Homo sapiens: one gene and its partner. The protein of the gene in region 1 purifies or fractionates together with the protein of each later gene. This does not show direct contact. Each region holds a gene or a part of one and is shown on either strand. Other genes may lie near its edges.

Region 1 (3,819 bases):
CTGGGATTAAAGGTGTCCGCCACCACACCCAGCAATTTTTATTTATTTTTAGTTGACACGGGGTTTCACCATGTTGACTAGACTGGTTTTGAACTCCTGACCTCAGGTGATCCGCCCACCTTGGCCTCCCAAAGTGCTAGGATTACAGGCGTGAGCCACTGTGCCTGGCCGGAATTGTCCACCTTTAAATTGATTCTTTTTCCTTTCATTGAGACGGAGTCTCACTCTGTCGCCCAGGCTGGAGTGCAGTGGCACGATCTTGGCTCACTTCAACCTCCACCTCCCGGGTTCGAGCGATTCTCCTGCCTCAGCCTCCTGACTGGCTGGGAATACGGGTGCACACCACCATGCCCAGCTAATTTTTGTATTTTTAGTGGAGATGGGGTTTTGCCGTGTTGGCCAGGCTAGTCTCGAACTTCTGACCGCAAGTGATCCGCCCGCCTCGGCCTCCCAAAGTGCTGGGATTACGGGTGTGAGCCACCAGACCTGGCCTAAATGAGCTCATTTGGTGTCATGATGTGAATTTTGCCTTAATAAACTTTTACAAGGAGAGCGCTAAGTCCAAAGCCCTTGTTTTATACAGAGAAGGCCACAGAGGCCCCAAGAGGGTCATGGCTGCCCAAGTGTGATTCTGGGGGTGCTGAGTGCCGATGTCCCCTCCGGCCCCTGCTCCCCCATCCCCATCCTCTTCCCGCAGCCTGCTGAGGGATGCCCAAGAAGTTCCAGGGTGAGAACACCAAGTCGGCAGCGGCCCGGGCACGTAGGGCAGAGGCCAAGGCGGCCGCTGATGCCAAGAAGCAGAAGGAGCTGGAGGATGCCTACTGGAAGGACGACGACAAACACGTCATGAGGAAGGAGCAGCGCAAGGTGCGTGCACTCCGAGTCCCCGCGGCCCGCATGCCTTGTGGCCAAGGCCAGTGGTCATTATGTCAATGTGGGTGAATAGCGAGAGGGCCCTCTGAGCTTTGGTCTGAAAGGCCAGGAGGGACCAGGCGCTGTCGCTCACGCCTGTCATCCCAGTACTTTGGGAGGCCGAGGCAGGCAGATCACCTGGGGTCAGGAGTTCAAGATCAGCCTGGCCAACATGATGAAACCCTGTCTCTACTAAAAATACAAAAATTAACTGCGTGGTGGCGCACACTTACAGTCCCAGCTACTCTGGAGGCTGAAGCAGAATTGCTTCAACTGGGAGGCGCAGGTTGCAGTGAGCCGAGGTCTCCCCGCTGCACTCCAGCATGGGCAACAGAGCGAGATTCCATCTCAAAAAAAAAAAAAAAAAAAAAAGAGGCTGGGCAGAGTGCCTCATACCTGTAATCCCAGCACTTTGGGAGGCCGAGGTAGGCATATCACCTGAGGTCAGGAGCTCAAGACCAGCCTGGCCAAAATGGTGAAACCCTGACTCTACTCAAAATACAAAAATTAGCCAGGCATGGTGGCAGGCTCCTGTAATCCCAGCTACTCGGGAGGCTGAGGCAGGAGAATTGCTTGAACCCAGGAGGCGGAGGTTGCAATGAGCTGAGATTGTGCCGTTGCACTCCAACCTGGGCAACAGAGTGAGACACTGTCTCGGAAAACAAAAAGCAAAATGCCAGGAGGCACTGGAGATGGCAGAGGGGAGGGAGGCAGAGGAAATGGTGTGTGGAAAGGCCCTGGGGTGGCACAGTCTTGCTTGTCTGTGGACAGTGAGGCTGTCATTGCTCTCTGTGGATGTTTCTCTCCTTTGAGTAATGTCAGGGTTGGGCTAGATGGTCATTCTCACCGTGGAGCTACTCTGCCCCTGAGGACGCTTGGCAACACCTGGAGATGTGTTTGGTTGTCATAACTCGGGGAGAGGGGGTGTTGCTGGCATATAGAAGGTGGAGACCAGAGATGCTGACACTCTAGAATGCACAGGACGCCCCCACAGCAAAGAATGAGCCAGCCCCAGATGTCAGCAGTGCTGAGGCTGAGAAACGCTGTGATCAGGCCCCCATTTCCAACCTGTTGACCCAGGTCCACAGGTTCTTCTAGGTGTTTATTTTATTTTTGTTGTTGTTGTTGAGACAGAGTCTCCCTCTGTTGCCCAGGCTGGAGTGCAATGGCGCGATCTCAGTTCACCGCAACCTTTGCCTCCTGGGTTCAAGTGATTCTCCTGCCTCAGCCTCCTGAGTAGCTGGAATTACGGGCATGTGCCACCATGCCCAGCTAATTTTGCATTTTTAGTAGAGATGGGGTTTCTCCAGGTTGGTCAGGCTGGTCTCGAACTCCCAACCTCAGGTGATCCGCCTGCCTTGGCCTCCCAAAATGCTGAGATCACAGTCCTGAGCCAATGTGCCCGGCCCAGGTGTTTATTTTTTAAAAGCCGTCGTTTGGCGTGGTAGCTCATGCCTGTAATCTCAGTACTTTGGGAGGCTGAGGTGAGAGGATTGCTTGAGGCCAGGAGCTCCAGGCCAGCCTGGGCAACATAGCAAGACCCCATCTCCACAAAACATGTACAAATTAGCCATGCATGGTAGTGTGTGCCTGTGGTCCCAGCTACTTGGGAGGCTGAGGTGAGAGGATCACTTGAGCCTGGGAGTTCAGGGCTGCAGTAAGCTATAATCGTGCTACTGTACTCCAGCCTGGGCAACAGAATGAGACTGTGACTCAAGATGAATCAAAAAGCCCAGGGCCAAGCACCATGCTTCATTGGTGTCTGGGTTGTGGTTTAGGGCTGATGCTGACCTGCTTGGCCCAGTAGGTGGCGCCAGTGACCCATGCTAGCCACAGCTCCTGGTTTCCACACCCTGGGTAGCTGAGACACTGGCCCTCTAGGCAACCCCCCAGCTTAGGGGCTGCTATCCTGACAACATGCCCAGTTCTTGGGGGGAATCTGGACATTCCCACCTGTTTTACCCGTCATCTTTTTTTTGTTTTTTTAAAGACGGTCTTGCTCTGTCACCCAGACTGGAGTACAGTGGCAGGATCACAGCTCAATGCAGTCTTGACTTCCCGAACTCAAGCAAGCCTCCTGCCTCAGCCTCCCAAGTAGCTGGGACTATAGGCGTGCACCACCACGCCCAGCTATTGTTTGTATTTTGTGTAGGGGGTGGGGGTCATCTCACTGTGTTGCCCAAGTTGGTCTCAAACTCCTGGGCTCAAACAGTCCTCCCACCTCAGCCTCCCAAAGTGCTGGGATTACAGGCATGAGCCACTGCACCTGGCCTCCCATTGTCTTTCTGTGAAGGGGTAGATCCTGCCTTGTTTTTAGCACACATTCAATGTCCCTGGCTTTCTTCCAGCCCCACCCCTACCCACCCTGCTGCACTGGGTCCATGGAGATATTTATAGTTTGGGGGTTGGGGGATCATCAAAATTTTGACACTATAGGAAAGTTGAAAACTCAAAAGGAAAAACAATGTCTGTCAAAGATGCAGTATCCATCCGGGTGCGGTGGCTCACGCCTGTCATCCCAGGACTTTGGGAGGCCGAGGCAGGCGGATCACCTGAGGTCAGGAGTTCGAGACCATCCTGGCCAACATGGTGAAACCCCATCTCTGCTAAAAATAAAAAAATTAGCTGGGCGTGGTGGCGCGCACCTGTAGTCCCAGCAACTCAGGAGGCTGAGGCACAAGAATCACTTGTACCTGGGAGGTGGAGGTTGCAGTGAGCCGGGATCGCGCCACTGCACTCCAGTCTGGGTGACAAAGCAAGAGTCCATCTCAAAAAAATAATAAAATAAAACAAAAAGATCCAGTATCCAGACAGAATCCAGAGACCTTTCCGCCCATAGTGTCAAGATCATTGGCTTAATCCTCCCTGTGGCCTGCGTCTTGGCCACTGGGGTTGGCCCCATCCTCT
Region 2 (3,819 bases), on another chromosome or scaffold:
GTGTCTCTTTTTTTTTTTTTCAGGCACAGATGTTAAAGATGCCAAGGTGATAAGTGTTTCTACAGGAACAAAATGTATTAATGGTGAATACATGAGTGATCGTGGCCTTGCATTAAATGACTGCCATGCAGAAATAATATCTCGGAGATCCTTGCTCAGATTTCTTTATACACAACTTGAGCTTTACTTAAAGTAAGTTTAGTAAACAAATAAGGACAGGAAGCTCTTTTTAAAAAATATTCCTCTATTAGAAAACATTGCAAAACCTTTCATTGTTTCTGTAATCATGGAAAATCTCTCAAAATCATAACTTTAATTAGTAACAATAAGGCTGCATCCCATTCTTCCACAATGCTCAACACACATATGCACACATACATACAATAACATAACATGGTCATAAATTTCAAGTCTGTGTTTAAGACCATGTGATTTTGTTGTATGCTGTATAAATAGAAGTTCCCAAACTGCCAGGTAAAGATGGTAATTTTTATTCTAGTCACCGTTTCTAGAAAGAGCTAGTCATGTATCCAAACTCCTTTTCTTTACAAAGCCATTTTTTGTATGTGGTCTTTCTGTTCTGAAGTCATAAATTGGAAGAAGGAAAGGTTACTCACATCCTGATGACATATCCATTATTGAGTGACAAGAACTGTATTAATTACCCTAAACATGTAAAATAAATATTCCAGTTCAAACTTATCTTTCCCTTGTGGAAAATACTAGCCTCTGAAAATGATAGACTAAAATTTAACTATATACAGCTTTAAATGTTACTTTTGCAACTTTTTTCCTTTCAGTAACAAAGATGATCAAAAAAGATCCATCTTTCAGAAATCAGAGCGAGGGGGGTTTAGGCTGAAGGAGAATGTCCAGTTTCATCTGTACATCAGCACCTCTCCCTGTGGAGATGCCAGAATCTTCTCACCACATGAGCCAATCCTGGAAGGTATGAGACGAGATTCTTCAACAAGCCAGTTTCTCAAGAAAATGTTAACAGATAAAAACTAACCTGTGTTAATATCCCTTTTCCTTTTTTTCTTTTTATTTTTAGACTTGGATGTGGATCTGATAAGAGTCTCTATAAAAGCATGGATTTTTTTCTTTCCAATTAACTTAATTAGAAAACTTTAATGAATGAAAAATGCTGATTGTAATTAACCAAGTAATTAGAATGGAGTGAGAATATTGGATTAAAATTGTATCAGTATTTAAATTTGGGTAATAAATATCTCTAAATCAGAGGTGTATGTGATCCTCCATATTTCTGAGGAATTCTAATTTGCTAAATGTGTAATTAAAGTATTTATTTGCCTGATATTTCAGAAGCAGATAAACACTAGTGAAAAGTGAAACCACTATTGTGATCATATTTTTTTCCATCCTTCTTTACATTTGAGGTTAGCACTTTTGTTTTTTAGTGTTTTGTATCTACATCCCTTCTCCCAAGCCCTTAGGCATTGTTTATTCCAAATAGAACGTTTTATTACATTACTTTCCTTGTTTATAAAAGCAACAGGCATACTCACTGTGGAAAATTGCTAACTATTTTTAAAATATAAGAACATTAAAATCATCCGTATTCCTGTAACCCAGAAATACTCACTATGGATGTTTTACCATACTTTCCATGGGTTTATTTCTGCATCTGTCTAGATTTATTTTGGAAATTTTAAAAATATAGAGGAAAATAACATGGCAAACACCCAAGTATCCATCACCCAGAATTAGCAAATGTTAGCATTTTGTCCTATTTGCTTCAGTGCATTTTTAATGATAGAAATAAATCATTTCAGTTAAAGTGAAAACCCCATTTCCCCAACTCCCTTGGAGACCACTTTTGTGAATTTTGTTTGTGTTATGTCCTTCCTACTCAATTTCATATAATTTTTTTTTTTTTTTTTTGAGACAGGGTCTCGCTCTTACACCCAGGCTGGAGTGCAGTGGTGCAATCATGGCTCACTGCAGCCTCGACCTCCTGGGCTCTTAAGCGATCCTTCCACCTCAACCTTCCAAGGAGCTGGGACTACAGGCATGTACCACTATACCTGGCTAATTTTTATATTTTTTATAGAGATGGGGTTTCACCATGTTGCCCAGGCTGGTCTTAAACTCCTGGGCTCAAGCGATCCACCTGCCTCAGCCTCCCAAAGTGCTGAGATTACAGGTGTGAGCCACCATACCCAGCCTCTCAGCTTCACATACTTATTTTGTATGTGTATTTTGTATGTATGGCATAAACATATGCATTTATATGCACAGACTGTATTTTAAATTTATAAGCTATTGTTAGATGTGCTTTTCAATAAATCAAATAGATGGTTTACTACCTGTGGGGTTTTAACTCTTTTTCTCTCTTAGAACCAGCAGATAGACACCCAAATCGTAAAGCAAGAGGACAGCTACGGACCAAAATAGAGTCTGGTGAGGGGACGATTCCAGTGCGCTCCAATGCGAGCATCCAAACGTGGGACGGGGTGCTGCAAGGGGAGCGGCTGCTCACCATGTCCTGCAGTGACAAGATTGCACGGTAAGGGGCGGGGGCTCCCTGTGGCCACCTCCCTGCACACAGGATTCATCCATACTGTTTGCCAACCTCCCTTTTCCACAACCATTTGAATTTTGGCCCCATTTCCCACTCAGGTGTTCCACAGTATTCTTTGAAGGACTGAGGTTCTAAACAGGTGCTGCTGGGACCCCCGTGAGGGGCAGCAGCAGGACCTAGACACAGGAGGCTCCACGCTTCTAACATTCCTATCCAAGCGTCTCAGAGTTTACCACTTATTTTTAACGTGGGCTTCTGGGTTAAACTGATGTTTTTAATGGGCTACAGGCCATGACATCTTAAAACTACTGGCTTCTCCTCATTAGTAGTAGATGCAACTTCAGTGGTCACTTTCATCATTCAGTTAACATTTTAGGTAGTTGATATGTGCATTTTAAAAGTAATGCAAACCCTGTCACAGGCATTGTGTTCTAAGCACAGAGAGCATCCCCAGCCATTCTGTGCCTGGGTGTGGGTTAGGCTTAGAGGAGGGCTCTGCAAGCACACTTCTGTAGTCAGCAGGCACCTGGGAGATATTCATCTTTCAGAGGCCTGTATCCAGAGCAGATTATAGAAAACCCATTTCTTCAGATGGTATCAGTTCCAGTAGTTCTTTGTTTTCATTTTTAAACTAATGTTTATTTGGAAAAAAAAAGTAACATAAGCAGATGGCAAAAAGCATACAATGATAAAGTTTAAAACCTCCCTCTTCAGAGCCCTCCTGTGGCACCCACAGTGAGTGGGTTTTGACTGTCCATCCAGAAGCTGTCAAAATTGATGCATACGCATGTGCACGTGCACATCTTTTCATTGTTTGTGTGCCCTTTATGTTGATTTCCTTCAGTGGGTCTTGTCAGGCAACCTCAAGTACAGGGAGCTGGATTAATCACACATTTTGGGCCATTGCCCACAGCCCAGGTGACCACTGTGATGTGTTTATTTATTATTTGTCCTTCCAGTCCACCTCCACACGTGCATATGTCAACTTTGTGTGTGTGTGATGTGGGGGAGGGGGGTGTACTCTTGAAAAATACACAATAGAATTATTTGGAGTATTTGTTGCTAATTTACAGAAATGATACTATGCTGTAAATCCTATCTGATTCTTACATTTTCATTCAACCTATATTTTTGGAGCTATTTCTGTTGCTCTAACCAACAGCCAGTTCACTACTGACTTTTGCAAATCTTCCTTCATAGTCATGGGCCATTTCCTTCATGATGGGACACCCATATTTCTTCTAACTCCCTTATACATGTAGTCCTGTATATCC

What was found.
Region 2: the proteins of CCDC124 (region 1) and ADARB1 purify together in Homo sapiens (affinity purification with western blotting; one study listed by BioGRID). This does not show direct contact.

What each region holds. Positions count from the first base shown.
Region 1 is NC_000019.10:17,935,713-17,939,531, forward strand, and holds part of CCDC124 (coiled-coil domain-containing protein 124), read left to right. Parts: intron 1-697; 5' UTR 698-708; coding exon 709-867; intron 868-3,819. UniProt on the Homo sapiens protein: Ribosome-binding protein involved in ribosome hibernation: associates with translationally inactive ribosomes and stabilizes the nonrotated conformation of the 80S ribosome, thereby promoting ribosome preservation and storage.
Region 2 is NC_000021.9:45,182,562-45,186,380, forward strand, and holds part of ADARB1 (double-stranded RNA-specific editase 1), read left to right. Parts: intron 1-23; coding exon 24-192; intron 193-800; coding exon 801-949; intron 950-1,912; coding exon of another isoform or gene 1,913-2,032; intron 2,033-2,361; coding exon 2,362-2,530; intron 2,531-3,819. UniProt on the Homo sapiens protein: Catalyzes the hydrolytic deamination of adenosine to inosine in double-stranded RNA (dsRNA) referred to as A-to-I RNA editing.